2 separate regions of the Homo sapiens genome follow, and region 2 is linked to region 1. A link means that fine-mapping ties the variant in region 1 to the expression of a gene that starts in the linked region. Tissue or cell type: whole blood. Region 1 holds a variant in brackets; the other region holds the start of a gene. All regions are shown on one strand. Distances are from middle to middle.

The links. PIP is the estimated chance that this variant, and not a neighbour inherited with it, causes the effect.
Region 2: it holds the start of SAPCD2, and the variant in region 1 is fine-mapped to the expression of SAPCD2 in whole blood (TOPMed, PIP above 0.99).

Annotation. Positions count from the first base shown.
Region 1 is chr9:137,008,953-137,017,118 of GRCh38, forward strand. ABCA2 (ATP binding cassette subfamily A member 2) reads right to left here. Exons shown (of 49, transcript NM_001606.5): 19 at 7,968-8,166; 20 at 7,622-7,786; 21 at 7,339-7,519; 22 at 7,010-7,222; 23 at 6,723-6,919; 24 at 6,462-6,644; 25 at 5,961-6,145; 26 at 5,738-5,858; 27 at 5,216-5,452; 28 at 4,880-5,086; 29 at 4,509-4,611; 30 at 4,050-4,366; 31 at 3,760-3,973; 32 at 3,533-3,638; 14 more. Among named protein-coding and RNA genes, the nearest start is that of LINC02908, 14 kb to the right of the region's middle. RefSeq lists an enhancer at 1,484-2,683. The variant C/T (reference allele first, on the strand shown) is at 3,490.
Region 2 is chr9:137,065,484-137,073,649 of GRCh38, forward strand. SAPCD2 (suppressor APC domain containing 2) reads right to left here and starts at 5,074. Exons shown (of 6, transcript NM_178448.4): 1 at 4,407-5,074; 2 at 779-891; 3 at 39-185. The coding sequence starts at 4,977. RefSeq lists enhancers at 2,293-3,273, 2,626-2,675, 5,236-6,215 and silencers at 2,976-3,025, 4,402-4,451, 4,502-4,551, 4,722-5,131.

The sequences.
Region 1 (8,166 bases):
TGAGCATGGCTTCCGGGAAGTTGCGGTTGAAGAACCGCACCACGTCCTTCACACTCTGGCTGCTCTTGGTCCGCACCGTGATCATGTAGCCATCTCCAAACCTGGTGGGACAGGCCGGTGGCCCGGAGCCCTGCGCCGCCCAGCCAGAGCCCCAGCCCCCCAGCCTCCCAGCCCTACAGCCCCCACAGGCACCCCAGGAAGCCCCATAGCCTCCCACAGCCCCCCAACCCCACAGCCCCCACAGCCCTCCAGGCTCCTCCCCTGGCCCCACTGCCCCAGTCCCCCCAGCCCCAGTGCCCCCAGCCCCCCTGGCCCCACAGCCCTCACAGCCCTGCAGCCACCCCCACTCCTGGCCCCGCTGCCTGGCCGCCCCCCCCGGGCCCGCCCCAGCCCACCCCTGGCCCTGCCCCGGCTCACCGGTTCTTCAGGTGCTGGATGCTGCCCAGGCACCGCAGGCGACCGTTCACCATGATGGCCAGCCGCGTGCACAGCGCCTCGCACTCCTCCATGCTGTGGGACATGCACAGGCTGGCACCGGAAGGGGTGCTGTGGGGTGGGGGCACAAAGAGGGGGTGGGGGCGCCCTCACCTGTGTGATGTCAGCACCACTGAACGCCCTGTCTTGATGAGGTCAAGGATGAGGTTCCAGAGGAAGCGCCGGGCCTTGGGGTCCATGCCTGTGGTGGGCTCGTCCTGGGGATGGGTGGCAGGCTCAGCTGCTGCCAGGCCCACACACCCCAGCCTGAACGCTGCCCCTGCCCGTGCTCACCAGGAAGTCAAAGGCCAGGCAGCCACCCCCCACCCACCCAGGACTTACCAGGAAGATGAAGGCTGGGTACCCAATGAGGGCGATGGCCGTGGAGAGCTTCCGCTTGTTGCCGCCGCTGTAGGTGCCAGCCGGCTTGTCTGCGTACTTGGTCAGCTCCAGCTTCTCCAGAGCCCACTTCACCACCTGGCCAGGGAACGCAGGTGTCAGTGGAGGCAGGGCCACCCAGCGTGCTGACTCCCTGCCCCGCCCCACAGATCCTCACCCGGGCCTCGTCCTTCCAGGAGATCCCACGCAGCCGCGTGTACAGCTGCAGGTGCTCCCGGGCCGTGAGCTCGTCGAACAGCGCGTCACACTGCGGGCAGTAGCCGAGGCTCTGCTGCACCTGGAGCAGCTCCTTCAGCACGCTGGGGACACGGCAGCTGTCAGCGCGTGAGGACGCGGCGGCCCCGCCCACCCAGGGCTCCCGCCCCACCTGTGTCCATTGACGAAGGCCTCGCCCCCCGTCGTGCTCTCGTCGCCGGTCAGCATCTTGAAGGTGCTGGTCTTGCCCGCACCGTTGACGCCCAGGAGCCCGAAGCACTCGCCAGGACGCACACCCAGGCACAGGCGGTCAACGGCCAGGATACGGCCAATCTTCCGGGACTTGTAGACCTGGCCAGGAGCCTGCCCACTCAGCGGGGCATCCTGCCCCCACCCTGCCCCTCTGGCCCCACCCCACCCAGACCCTGCCCCACCTCCAGAGCCCAGGGGGCCACGTGCCCCACAGCCCCACCCCATGCAGGCCCCACCCCCAGAGCTCAGGGCCCTGCCCACCCAGGCTCCACCTCCACTGCTGGGGCCCCACCCCCCTGGCCCTGGCCTACCCCACCCAGGCCCCACCCTACATGCCCAGAGCCCACCTTGGTCAGGTTCTCAATCTTGACCATGTCATTGTCGGCGTCTCCCCGGAGCACTCGCTGCCGCTCACTGGCCACGTCCACATCATCCTCCACAGGCTTGGTAGACACAGGCATGCGCCTTGGGGGACAGGGTGGACAGTGTCCAGCAGCTCGCCACCCCCACTGCCCCTCCCTGCCACCAGCCTCGCATCCTCTGGCTGTGGCATGTAAGAAGGGTGGGCAGGCCCCTCTGCTGTCCCCTGCCTCACCCCCTCCTGCCCCATCCCTGCCCCCACCCCCGCCCCTACCCTGCCCCACCCCCGAACCCATCCCTGCTCCCGCCCCGCCCCCGCCCCACCCCGCCCCCCACTCACTGTGGCCGCCGCAGGAAGTTGTACTGGCACATGATGGTCAGGAGGAAGCCCACGACGCCCTCAACCGCCATGGCCACCAGTCCGCGGGTGACAATGTCCCACTCGAACGGGGACTTCATCTTGTCAAACTGGCCTGCGGGGAGACAGCTCAGGGCCTGTGCTCTGGGCCTTGCGGGGCCCCCACCGCCTTCCCCGCCCCACGGGCCCCCTCACCAATCTTGGCGTAGTACTCGTTGATGTACTCGTTGTAGGCCATCTCCATGAGCCCGTGGCCCAGGTTGTAGTTGGGGAAAATGAGGAAGCAGCTTTTCAGGTAACTGTTGACAACCTTCAGGTCCTGCGGGGTGGCCGGGGTCAGGGGCACAGGGGTGGCCGGGGTGAGGGGCACAGCCTCCGCAGGGTCCGCCACCCCCACCATGTCGTCACCGCCCCACCTTGTCGTGCTCGAAGAGCTGTAGCAGGAAGGTGGCCACGGTGGCGGTGATGCCGATGAAGAGATTGATGACAATGAGGAACACGTAGGCGGAGCTGGGGACCTCGAACCAGAAGGAGGCCGGGTACATGATGGGCGTGATGGACCACCTGCGGGCAGGTGGCGGGCAGTGGTCACCAGGCAGCCCCGGTCCCACCTGAGGCCGCTCCCCCCTCCGCTTCCGCTTACCCATAGAGCAGGAAGAGGGAGAGGACGGCAGGGAAGTTGGTGGGCGACGTGTAGGCCGGCAGGTCGAACACAAACAGGATGATGACACAGCAGGTAGCGGGGACCAGGTAGTTGAGCTGCAGGGGTGGGGGCGGCTGGTGAGAGACCCGGGGCAGGGCGGGGATGGGGGATGAGAAGGGCCGGGGCACCCCATGGCCACGCCGGGCGCACCATGTCCCACACGTAGTTCGCCAGCCAGTAGATGATGGGGTTGCAGCCGCTGACAAACTGCAGGTGCTTGGCCTTGGTGGACTTCTCGGCCACGAGGAAGACAACGAAGCTGGCCGGCACGAAGGACATGGCCACGATGATGAAGATGGCGATGACGACATCCGTGCCCTGCAGCCTGGGGCAAGGAAGCCCTCAGTCCTCACGGCCGGGGCTGCAGTGCCCACCTGCCCCACCTCATCCCCCACTGGCCACACTTACAGGTAATCCAGGGAGAGGCTGGCGCTGGTCTTATTCATGGGGTGGTTGGTGACGGTGATGCCTGCACACGGCGGGGCGGGGGCGGCAGCTTCAGGCCCCAGCTCCTCCCCGCCCCGGCCCCAGCTCCTCCCCGCCCCGCCCCGCCCTGCCTATGTCAGCTCACCGTAAGCCGCCGGGTTGCCCTTGCTCTTGGGCAGGTTGGCACGCAGGATGGCGTTGTTGAGGCTGTTGAGGTAGGTGGGCATGCTGTGATAGCCCTTGTTGTTGTAGAAAACCTGCAGAAGGAAGAGGACACAGAAAGGCCCCAGGACCTCAGACCTGGGTCCCTGCAGACCTCGGG[C/T]GGCGCTACACACAGCGGGGCCCAGGCCCGCAGCCTCGCTCACCTGGGCAGCCCTGCGCACCGCGATCTTCCGCACCATGGGTGGGGCCCTGGTGCCAAATGAGGCTGGGATGGACTTCAGGACGTTTCCAAAGGTGATGGCCCCATACCTGGGCAGGCAGGTGGGAGGGGCGGTGAGGCTAGGCAGGCAGTGAGGCTAGAGGGGCAGGAGTTGAGACTAGGTGGCTGGTGGCCGGCCACCCTCACCCACAGCCTCCCCACCCAGCTCACCGGTGCAGTCGGAAGCGGTCGGAGGTGAAGAGCAGGTACTCAGAGACATTGTGGCCGGTGATGTCGGTCAGGATGTCGCCTGTGACCACCCGCATCTGGGGCGGGTGCCCGCCCACACTGCTGGGGCAGGAGAAGCCGGTGCCCTGCGCAGAGCAGGTGCAGCGGACGGGCTCCCGTACCAGGCGCGGCAGGGAGGGTGCCGACGTCCACATTTCTGTGGGCACAGCATGGTGCGGTGAGAAGGACCCCTCACTGCCCCTGCCCCCCCAGCAGGCCCCCTGAACCACTACCTGGCCCAGCGGTGGGCGGCAGGGAGACGTTCCAGGCCTGCAGGTCCTCATCCGGGGACGCTGGCGAGTCAGATGGGGCGGGCGAGGGTGGGGGTGGCACGAAATTGGACAGTGGCAGCCCCTGTGTGAAGGACTCCAGACACATGCTGTCGAAGAACCGAGCCGCCAGCAGGCGCGACTCCCCGCTGCTCAGGTTCAACGTGGGCCCCAGCGAGCCGTTGGCGGGAGACTTGAGCACGCAGGTGGCACCCACCCCCGACGGCAGCCGGAACGTGCTCACGAGCTGCTGGGGGCTGGCGTCGGGCGATAGCCGCAGCCTGCGGGCACCGACAGTGTGAGGTGGGGCTGCCAGTCTCCGCCCCTCGCCAGCCCCGCCCCCTCGCCCGCCTGGCCCACCAAGGCTGTCCCCGCCCCTTCACTCGCCCCACCCACCAAGGCTGCCCCCGCTGGAGGCCTCACCGGTACTCGCGGCGCTCCTCGTTGGCGTAGGGGATGAAATTGCCACGGGGCTGGGTGTAGTTGTGGTACTGGGAAGGTGACAGGACCAGCGGGGGCAGATCACCTGGCAGGGCGAGCAGGGAGGCCTGAGCAGGTTCTGCCCTCTGGCCAGCGGCCCCCAAGCCTCGGTCCCCTTCCCCCAACCCCAAGGGATCCACGCCTGGGGTCTGGGACCCGAGGAGACAGGACTCCCGGATGAACCCCGGTGCGTGCCCAGCCTCAGGTGTGGGGTGAGGCCCAGAGTCAGGAAGCTCAGGAGTGGGCATCATCAGGGCTCCCAGCGGGCGGTGGGGGGAGGCAAGCCCAGCACCCCTGTCCAGCCGGTGGCCTACCAATCTCCGGGACGGACAGGGCCACGGTCATGGCCACGCAGACGAAGAAGGCTGGCAGCAAGATCTGGGAGAAGAGTGCCTTGGAGTTGCGGCGGGCGCAGTGGAAGCGTTTGACCAGCAGCCCGTGGAACTGGCGCACCTTCAGCCACCCGCCGTCCAGCTTGCGGCTGCCCTGGCCGACCCTCGACAGGGCCTCTGCCTCCACCTCTGTGCAGAGAGGTAGAGGCTGAGCAGGTGGTTGCACGCTACCCTCTCCCTACTGGCTGCCCTCATGCCGCTCCCCCGCAACCCTGCTCCCCCTCCCTTGCTGTCCCAGCCTCACCCTGCCACCCCCACCTTGCAGGCTGACATTGTCTGGGTCCTGTGGGTTATCAAAGAGGGGGCGGTAGTCGCCATAGACGTCGGTGTAGCCAGCTCCCTCGTCGCCACGGGCAGAGCCCACAGATGACGCCGACTGCAGCGATGCCTGCGACTGGGTCAGCTCCGAGCACCGGGCCAGATTGCCAGCGTGACCCTCCCCAGACGCCGGGCCCTCCGCCCCAGGGAGCACATCCTTCCTGGACTCCTTCACATCTGCCGCAGTGGAAGGGCCGAGGGGACACTCAGGGCTACTGGCCCCTAGGCCTGCCCAGGACCCCCATCCCCGGTCTTGACCCCAGTTCCCAGGCTCATACACCTGTCCGGGACCTCTGGCCACCAGGACCACCCACCTAGGACCGCAGGCTAACCCCGGGGCGTCCCCTGGCTTCCACCCAGGACCAGGGTGGCGCCCCCAGACACCAGGCAGGAGTGACAGCGCAGGCCCGAGCTGGGGCCTTGTGGGTGGGGTGGGCTGAGCAAGTGGTCCAGGCCCCTCACCGGCCTCACTGTTCTCCAGCGACTGATCCTCCTCCGACACCTTGAGGAACACTTCCTCCAGGGTCGTGTCCATCAGCCCGAAGCTGCTGAGGTGCAGTGCATCCAGGCTGCGCTCCAGGTGCTGCAGGGGCGGTGGAGGGGGAGGCTGCGGCAGGGACGCCCAGGCAGGAGTGCGCCCACCTCCACCACCTGCAACTGCCCCCCGACCCGTGCGCCCTCACACCTGGAAGAGGCGCTCGAAAGCCCCCTTCTTGGCGGCCTCGCTGGGCAGGATGTAGGAGAGCTCCGTGCTTGTGTCTGAGACCAGCAGGCAGGAGGCCACATGCTTGCGGATGAACTGGGACACCTGGAGCTCGGAGCAGCTGCTCAGCGGGGCCCGACCTGGGGGGCTGGATGCCAGCCCTGGCTCTGTGGGGGACGTGGGAGCAGGAAGGAATTCACTCAGGGGCTGGGAGGAGGGACCCCCAATGGGAACCCAACTGGGTCAAGATATGGGCATTGGAGAGGAAGAACCAGGCCCCAGCAGGTATCCTGGGCCCAGGGGGTGACGCTGAGGACCCAGCCTCTCCAAGATACGGGCGTTGCAGAGGGCGGGCCAGGCCCCAGCAGGCATCCTGGGCCCAGCGGGTGACGGTGAGGGCCCAGCCTCTCCATTGTGGATTCTCAGGTGGGGGTCCCGGGGAGAAGGTGGCCCGAAGCCAGCTCAGGCAGCTTCAACACAGACCTTGGGGGCCCCCCGGCTCGGCGGGCCGCTTGACCAGCGTGAGGCGGTACCCGTCGCCATAGGTGCCCTTGAGGAAGAGCGGGGAGCCGCAGCACTTGAGCTTCCCATGGGAGATGATGGCAATGCGGTCCCCAAGCAGGTCAGCCTCATCCATGTGGTGGGTGGACAGAAGGATGGTGCGGCCTAGGACAAGGCCAGACCCAGGGTCAGGGGGCAGGGGAGGCGCCGCCCGCACCCCTGCCCACACGGCACCCCACTCACCTGGCTTGTACTTCAGGATGAGGTCCCAGATGGCGCGGCGCGCGTAGGGGTCCACGCCCGCCGTGGGCTCGTCCAGGATGATGGCGCGAGAGCCGCCCACGAAGGCGATGGCCACGGACAGCTTGCGCTTCATGCCACCCGACAATGTCTGCACCAGTGAGTGCCGTTTGTTGGAGAGCTCCAGGTCCTCGATCATCCTGGGACAGGGAGGTGGGGCATGGGGCTGCTGCTATGCAGAGCCCCAGGGCCTCCGCCCACCTGCCCCGCCCCCCGCCCAGCCCACCCACTTGTCCATCTCTCTGCGGATCTCCTCCTGAGCCATGCTCTTGAGCCGTGAGTAGAACCAGAGGTGTTCCTCCACCGTGAGCCGGTCAAAGAGCACATTGTGCTGCGGGCACATGCCCAGGTTCTTGCGGATCTCATCCATCTCCGTGCGGATGTCGTGCCCGTAGATGGTGGCGGAACCCGACGTTGGAGGGAACAGGCCGGTCAGGATGGACCTGGGTAGGTGGGCGGGGTCATGACCCCACGCCCTCTGCAGGGGCCCCACCCTGCCCTGACTAGGACTCCTGCTCTGGTCAGCAGATGCCCACCGCCCTGCCCCTCCGACACTCACATGGTGGTGGTCTTGCCCGCCCCGTTGTGGCCCAAGAAGGAGACCACCTGGTTCTCGTAGAGGTTCAGGCTCAGCTTGTTCAGGGCCAGCTTCTTGTCGTCCTTGTAGACCTTGGTGAGTTTGTCCACGCAGACAACCAGAGGCAGGTGGGTGGGCTCCTCCTCCATGCCACGGGTCTCCTCTGCACCAGGGCTGTGGATCAGCAGGGTGGGGGCGGCGCCAAGGCCACCCAGGACTCTGAACCCAGCGCCCACCCCAGCCACCATTCTGATGCCAGCCTCACCAAAGCGCCGGCTCTCCATGGCACAGGCCTGGTCCTCCTCCATGACACTGAGGCGGGGGGTGCGTGCCCACGGCCAGCTCCACTCCCAGGCTTCTGTCCGCCCACTGCCCAGCCAGTAGGACTTCTGCAGTGGGAAGTACCAGGGCCGGGGCAGCCCGTACATGCCTGGGGGTCGGGGAGGGGAGGGGAGGCTGACCTAGGGCCTGGGGTGACCATCCACCACGTGGGCCACGTGCCCACCCAGGGAGCCACCCGTGCTGCATCCAGGAGTGGACACAGACTGCTGGTCCCCAACCCTGGCTGGGGACCCCTGCCTCTCCCCTGCCCTCCAAGGGCTGGCCAGTACCTGGGTGCACAGCCTCAATGTACCACGTGAGGATGCCATAGACCACGGCGTCCACCATCAGCATGGTGACAGCCAGGAGCAAGTTGAAGTCGTCCCCCTCCACCGGGGACTGGCTGAAGGTGTGCCACTGGATGCCCACGCCGGCCACCTCATACAGCGCGAAGTACTTAGAGCCCAGACCAAAGGCCGTCGTGGACAT
Region 2 (8,166 bases), 57 kb after region 1:
CATGTGTGGGGATCTGGGGACAGGGCTGTGGCACTCACGGCGCTGGCTCTGCTCTGGCCCAGGCGGCGCTGGCGCTCCTGCACTCGTTGCAGCTGCTGCTGGTACCAGTCGCGGCCCCGCGCCATCATCTCCAAACCCTGCAGCAGCACCTCCTTCTCCTGCTCCAGCTCCTTCATCTGCTTCAGCTGCAATACGTGCATTTACATGGAATGCCTGGCCCCAGTGAGCACGCACACGTCCACACATGCATGAGCTCACCTGTGGGTGGGCACCAGAGCCACAGACACAAATGCAGCAGCACGTGTACACGTTTGCAAACACCCACGGACGCACGCTTCTGCTGACACCTGCATGTGTGAGCCCCATAGGCCCATTTGGAGCAGGAGCCCCGTTCCTCCTGCTGAGGGGTCTTGGCCTTTCTTAGCCCCTCCACTCAGGCTTCCCTGGGGGAGGGGTGACGGACCCTTCAGCTGAGCCCACCCTCCCGAAGTCTGCCTGTGGTGAGCACACAGCTGGGAAGCCAGACTGGCTTGCAGCAGCAACCTCGTGAGGCGGGCTGGGCAGCCACCATAGCTGCCCTAAACGACCTCTTGACCTCCCTCTGCCTGACCCTGGGCCATCCCTCCAGGGGAGTCAAGCCCAGGTAGGGAGAGAGATGTCCAGAGCTGACTGTACTTCCGCCATGGACTCCCCCAGGCTCAAGGCCCCCCTGCTCCCATCCCGGCCTCCAGCCTCCAGGCAAGATGGAGAGCCCCACAGAGCCCCAGTCCCTGCTCACCAGGCCGCAGTCCACGCCGCTGGCGATGGTGTGCCTCCGACGTTCCCCTCGGGCACGGGGAGCCCGCCGGGCATCCCCTGAGTCCGCCTCCAGGGCCCTGCACGCCACTGCACCTGTTATGGAGAGGCATGGGCCTGGCTCACCTCCAGACCTGCCTGGCCAGGCTCTGCTGAGGTGCAGCGGCCTCCACATCTCAGCCCACCCTCGAGGTCTCGGGCACCAGCCTGGCATGGCCCACGTGTAGCCTCTGTGCCAGGCTGGAGTTTGGTCCCTCTCCCCTTTCCAGCTCCTCACACTGGCTTGGGGAGGGCTGTGCCGCCAAGCCCGCATGTTTGCTCAAACACACACCCTGCCCCCTCATCGGTCCGTGAGCTCTCTGGGGCCAGAGGCCTTATCCAGCTCTCTTCTGCACACCCAGTGCCCAGAACATGGCAGGCACACCCTGGGTCTCCAAGGCAGCTGGGTAAGGGAGGAGTGGGCGGGGGGGTTCTGGTCCTGACTACGCCTCTCCCATCTGCACGGGGTCCTGCAAGGCAGCAGGAGATGTGGGTGTGAATGACGGAAACCTAACTTTTCCCAGGATGGTGACTCTGATAGAAAGTTAGTCCCGCATGGCCGGGCACAGTGGCTCACGCCTGTAATCCCAGCACTTTTGGGGACCAAGGCGGGTGGATCGCTTGAGCTCAGGAGTTTGAGACCAGCCTGGGCAACATGGCAAAACCCCATTTCTTCCTTTTTTTCTTGAGACGTTGTTTTGTTCCTGTTGCCCAGGCTGGAGTGCAATGGTATGATCTTGGCTCACTGCAACCTCCGCCTCCCAGGTTCAAGTGATTCTCCGGTCTCAGCCTCCCGAGTAGCTGGGATTACAGACACCCACTACCATGCCCAGCTACTTTTTGTATTTTTTAGTAGAGATGAGGTTTCACCATGTTGACCAGGCTGGTCCTGAACTCCTGACCTCAGGTGATCCACCCACCTCAGCCTCCCAAAGTGCTGGAATTACAGGCGTGAGCCACTGTGCCCGGCCGGCAATACCCCATTTCTATTAGAAACACAAAAATTAGCCTGGTGCAGTGGCATGCACCTGTGGTCCCGGCTACTCAGGAGCCTGAGGCAGGAGGATTGCTTGAGCCTGGGAGGCAGAGGTTCCACTGAGCCCAGATTGCGCCACTGCACTCCAGGCTGGGCAACACAGCAAAACTTTGTCTCAAAAAAAAAAAAGATCCCTTGCCGGGCACGGTGGCTCACACCTGTAATCCCAGCACTTTGGGAAGCTGGGGCGGGGGGGGATCAGTTGAGGTCAGGAGTTCAAGACCAGCCTAGCCAACATGGTGAAACCCTGTCTCTACTAAAAATACAAAAATTAGCAGGGCGTGGTGGCATGCACCTGTAATCCCAGCTACTCGGGAGGCTGAAGCAGGAGGATCGCTTGAACCCAGGAGGCGGAGGTTGCAGTGAGCTGAGATTCGCGCCACTGCACTCCAGCCTGGGCGACAGAGCAAGACTCCATCTCAAAAAAAAAAAAAAAAAAAAAAAAAAAAGTCCCGCGTGTGTGATACGCCAGGCGGTGCACCCAACTGACAAGTCAGGCACGTCCTGGTGCTCACAGACCCCTGCTCTGAAGTTTGTTTGAGGGCTCCCCCTGGGGGCAGCCAAGAGTATCGCGTTGGTGCCACTCCGGCCCAGCTTCCTGGTGAGGGAGTAGGTGCACCTCCCCAGGCTACAGAAGTGGGTACAGGTGTGGAGGAAGGCATCCTCCTTCGGCCTCCAGCTGTAGCCCCAGCACCAGGCACATCCTTAGAGGCCATGCCCCTGGCACCTGGCCACAGGAGTCAGGGAGTGATGCAAGAATTGGGCCCAGGTAGGCACGGCAGAGAGCCTGGCTCCAGGCAGGCCCGAATTCGCACTCCAGCCTGCGGTGCTGAGCGGCTGGCAGCTCTGGGGCAAGACAGTGGAAGAGCACACAGCCCTTCAGGAGGTGGGAGCAGAGAGGGTACAGACAGAGGGAGGCCATAGAGGAAGTCCCAGGACACCTGGGCCCGGTCTGTACAGTTGAGTCCATAGAGCAGCTCCTGGGTCCCCAGATAGCAGCGTGCTGGGTGATGAGCTAGATGGCCTCTAGGTGGGGGTGGTGGCTCTGCCCCTCCAGGGCCCTGAGCCAGCAGGCCACACCTCCAGGGCCACAGCCAGCCTGGAGCAAACACGCAGTCCCAGGTGGGAACAAGGAAAGAGGCCCTGAACATCTGGGCTGGGGGCTTGGAAGGCTGTGTGTGTTGGCAGGCTTTCTGGGAGTTGGGGTGACCTCAGAGCTCCAGATTTGACACCCCAAAAGCCAGCTGTGTCAATCAAATATGTCACGCCATTTGTCTGGCCCTCCGTTTGCCTGTGAGAGGGTGACAGCTACAGCCCTAGCCATGTGGCCTTCAGGGAGATGTGGTACGTGAGCCAGTGCCGCATGGGGCATCAGAGCAGAGCAGGGGTGGACCACAGGCTTAGGCCTCCAAACCCCAGGCCCGGCCACAGCGTGCAATCCCATGGCTGATTTCAAACTGCATGGCCACATGGATGACGCTGACCCTGCATTTGGAGCCAGATACCCTCTGAAGGTTCCCTCACCATAGAACTAGGGGTCCCCCAGCCTGGTGTGGCTGCTGGATCAGATCACCAGGGAGGCCAGGGCCGCCGTGGCTCCAAACACCAGCTGTAGGGCTGGAGAATATGGCTGAGGTGGGGGAGCAGTACAGGGAGGGTGGCAGAGCAGCAGGCAGCACAGGGACCGGCAGGAGCCACCGGTGGGCAGGCCTCCCCTGGCAGAACGGGTGCACAGGCCGAATGGGCTGTGGGGCCTGGGGCCCCTCTGGGAGCTTGGCCCCCCAACCCCAGCCATAATACAGGTCCTGTTCCCAAGGCAGGCACTGGGTTGGGGGAGACAGGGGACCATTCAGCAATCTCCCATCACTGCCAACTGGACCGGAAGGCAGGAGAGGAGTGTGCCAGCCATCCCCAGGGACTACGGCCTATGTCCCTCCATGGCATCTGCCATAGTACAGCCCCACTGGGGTGCAGGAGATCCACCCACGCCCCTGCCCATCTTGGCAACAGGGCCAGGTCCTCTTGGGCCACCAGCAGCAGCCCCCGCCTGCCTAGGCCTCAGTGGGGTCAGTGGGCCCAGCCCCCCTGGCTAAGCTGTCACACTGAGAAGGGGGACCCTTTCTTTGAGAAGGAAGCACTTCTGCCTGAGCAGCCACAGACAGGAGGCTGAGGGCCCAGGTGTCCCCAGGTGCGGAAAGGGTATTGGAGATGGAGAGCCCAAGCTCAGGCTTGGTACAGGTTGGGCTCCCGGTGGGTTTTCTGAGTCACCTGCCACCCCCCGGCCCTGGTGGCCTTATGCTGTGGCAGGAGAGGGTCTGGCTTGCCTCCCTAAGCAAGCCCCTGGGCTCACCGCGACAAGCATGAAGCCCTTTCCCTCCAGACCCGCCGAGGCGCCCTCCAGGATCCGGAGTCCACGAAGAGCCGCTCCCCGGTCCCGTCCCTTGTGGGAAATGCACGGGCAGCAGCTGTGGGACTGCGGTTTCTGGCCCGGGCCCGGGAGAGCTACGAGGGTGCCCGGGGGCCGTCCGGAACTCACCTGCGTCCGCGCTGGAGCTCGGTTCCAGCGCCGCGCTCTGGGACCGCTCGGGCTCCGCGGGGCAGGGCGCCGCCTCAGCCGGGGCGCACAGCTGCTCCGGGCTGCGGGCGGCGGCGCTGGGACCGGCCAGAGGGGCGCGCACGCCCAGGGGCAGGGGCTTCCTCTCCAGGACCGTCCGCGGCTCGTCGGCCGGAGCGAACACCAGGCGCTGCGGCGGCGGCGGCGGCTGATCCCCGGGCCGGGCCGGGGCGCGCGTGGGGTCCCGGGGGCCGCCGTCGGCGCTCAGCAGGGAGGTGCGCAGGCCGGCCACGAAGCGCTCGAAGGTCAGGTAGCCGCTGGCCGGGGCCACCTGGCGCAAGCCCTCCAGCACCCCGCGGGGCAGCTCCCGCGCGTCGGTGCCCTGCCAGCGGGACTCGATCTCGCGCAGGTGCACGCAGCCGCGCCGCCGGTCGTCCAGGATGTCGAACAGGGTGCGCAGGCTCTGCAGGAAGGCGCGCGGCAGCCCCTCCGTGCTGGGCGCGGGTGCGGGGGGAGGCACGCGGCCCCGCTCGGCCATGGCGGCCCCGGCCATGGGCGCCCGGGATCGGTCCCCTCGTCCACCCGCGTGCGTCCCAGCGCGGCCCCACGGAGGGGCCGGCCCGGCGAGCTCAGCCCACGGCGACAATAGCGACTACTTTTGAATGGGGCCCTCCTCGCGGCGTCAGCCCTCATTAACATGCGCCGCGGCCATTGGCCGAGCCCGTCCCATCTGCTCTCTGATAGGCTGAGAGGAGGTTTGATTTTTTTTTTTTTTTTCTTGCCGAGTGGCCCTGGGAGGCGCGCGGAGGCCCTGGGCAGGCGGAACCGGATCCCCCAGCTCCTGCTCCACTCTGGCCTCGCAGACCTTCCTTTCTGCCCCGCCCCAGCCCCACCAAACCTCCTGCCGCGGCCAGGCGCTTTCTCGGATCCAGCTGTGGCTGGCTGCCCCGGCCACCTCTCCAAGGGGCGGGGCCTGGCACCCTACAAAAAAACCTGTCTCCAGGTAGCCTCGTGGGGTAAGAATGGGGGGGGGCACCCCCTCCAAAGATCCCACTTTTCCCCTCTAGTTCCCTGGCCGCAAGCACAGGTGACCCTGCGGCCCCCTTCTCTTCCACCAGGAGGGCCCCAAGAGGATCGTAGGCTCCAGCCAGCTGGGCGCTTCCCACTCACAGAGGCCTTTCTGTCCCCACTGCTGCTGGCTCCTCCTCTGGTCCCTCGGGACAGTCTGGCCTGGCCTGCCTGCTGCAGAACAAAGCCACTTTCTCCTGTGTCCCCAGATCCCCATCTAGTGACCAGCTCCCTCTGCCTCTTGCTCTCCTCTCCTCCTTCCCCTGGCTGGACACCTCCTCCAGCTGCTCTCCTGGCTCCCGCAGCCCTGTCCCCCTGCCTCTGCTGTGTTTCCAGCTGGGATCTGGTCACTCTGTCTTCATTTGGTCTGTCCACATGGGAGGTGAGACCAGGCCTTAGCCTGGGTTCTAGCCCTGGGAGCCCATCTCAGGGCTGGCCAGTAGTACCCTCTAGGTTCCAGGGAGGTGTTCAGGGTGCAAACACCCTCCCCAGACAGGCCCCCAATCCGAGACTTGCCTTGGCCCTCTGCGGGTCTCCCACCCTCCCTCCTGGGCAGGCCTCAGCTGGCATACCTACCTGGGTCTCTGTCCTCAGGCCTGAGCCACTGGTGCCTGTGTCTCAAGCTGTAGAGGCATCTTCCCAGGCCAGGGAGTATCCTGGGTCCACTTCTCTTCTGGGTCACTCACTCTAAGTGGGACTCCTTCATCGTAGGGAATGCTGGAAGGACATAAGAAGCTCTGAGCCTGGAGCAGCCCATCAGAGCTTGGTCCTGTAAGCCAGCTTCCCCTTTAATGGCTGGTCTGCTCAAAAACCCAGCACGAGGCCGAGGCGGGAGGATCACTTGAGCTGGGGAGTTCAAGACCAGCCTGGGCAACATAAGGCAACCCTATTTCTACAAAAAGTTTAAAAAATTAGCCAGGCGTGGTGGTGCATGCCTGTGGTCCCAGGTATTTGGGAGGCTGAGGTGGGAGGATCCCTTGAACCCAAGAGGTTGAGGCTGCAGTGAGCTGTGATTGAGCCACTGCTCTCCATCCTGGGTGACAGAGCGAGATCTTGTCTCAAAAACAAAACAAAACAAAACAAACCAGCACAACACGCAAGCCCCCGCCCCCCCATCCCCACACCTACCCTGCTTCCAGCACACCCCTCACCGCCAGTGCCAGGCCTGGGGTCCCTGCACTCCCTCACTTCCAGGCCCCTGTGCCTGGTGGCTCTTCTACCAGGAAGGCCCTTCCCCTCTGCTCCAGGCTGACCGCACTACATCCTTCAGAACTCTGCTCTGGCCCCAGTCCCCTTCCCCCTGAAGCCTAGTTAGATAAAACACAGGGGACAGCTTTCTCCTGGCCCAGGGGGCCCTGGCTATTTGCAAGCAGGACAGGGCTCCTTCTAGGCCTGGCATTGGCCTGGCCCACAGTGGGTGCTCTGTGAATGGCACTGGGGAGCCGTATCCAGTGAAATCATATGGGAAACACCATCCTTGAGTGGGCACCAAGCCAGGCTGAGGCCTAAGGGATGGGGAAGGGCTGGGAACAGCTCAGTGGTATGGCAGGGGAGGCCAGTGTGGATGTGGAGTCGGTGGCCAGCAGTGAGCAAGGCTGCTGCAGCTCAGGACAGCGTGGCCAGCAGTGTCCAGGCCAGGCCAGCCATGGCCCCGCATGGAACTGAACCCACCGTGCAGATGAAACAAGGGCTTTTCATACCATCCAGAGCCTTGGGGGAGGCGGCCCCAGCTGGCCCTTGGTCTGTGGGCTTCTCTGTGGCCCCTGGCTGGGTATTGGAGGAAGGTATGAAAAAGACTGGAGGCCGGGCACGGTGGCTCACGCCTGTAATCCCAGCACTTTGGGAGGCCAAGGCGGGCGGATCACCTGAGGTCAGGAGTTCGAGACCAGCCTGACCAACATGGAGAAATCCCGTCTCTACTAAAAATACGAAATTAGCCGGGCATGGTGGCCCATGCCTGTAATCCCAGCTACTCGGGAGGCTGAGGCAGGAGAATAGCTTGAACCCCGGAGGTGGAGGTTGCGGTGAGCCAAGATCGCGCCATTGCACTCTAGCCTGGTCAAGAAGAGCAAAACTCCATCTCAAAAAAAAAAAAAAAAAAAGGCTGGGCACGGTGGCTCATGCCTGTAATCCCAGCACTTTGGGAGGCCAAGGCGGGAGGATCACGAGGTCTGGAGATCGAGACCATCCTGGCTAACATGGTGAAACCCCGTCTCTACTAAAAACACACACACACACAAAAAATGAGCCGGGCGTGGTGGCGGGCGTCTGTAGTCCCATCTATTCGGGAGGCTGAGGCAGGAGAATGGCGTGAATCCAGGAGGCGGAGCTTGCAGTGAGCCGAGATGGCACCACTGCACTCCAGCCTGGGCGACAGAGCGAGACTCCGTCTCAAAAAAAAAAAAAAAGACTGGAGGCTGTGCCTGGCTTTGGGCGTGGAGCTAAGATGTGGTCCTGTGTCCTTCCTGTCCTGAGCTCTGACCACTTCCTCCTTCACTCCACTTTCCGGCTGGCCTGATAGTTTCCCAATCCTTCAGGTTTTAGTGCTGTGTCACCCCTGGGGGTCCCATGCTGTCCCTGTACTTTTGGAGGCCCCATCTTAGCTGTAATTGTGTTCTCACTGTGTAAGCCTGGACCACTCTGGGCAGAGGTGGCAGGAAGACCGGCCCCTCTG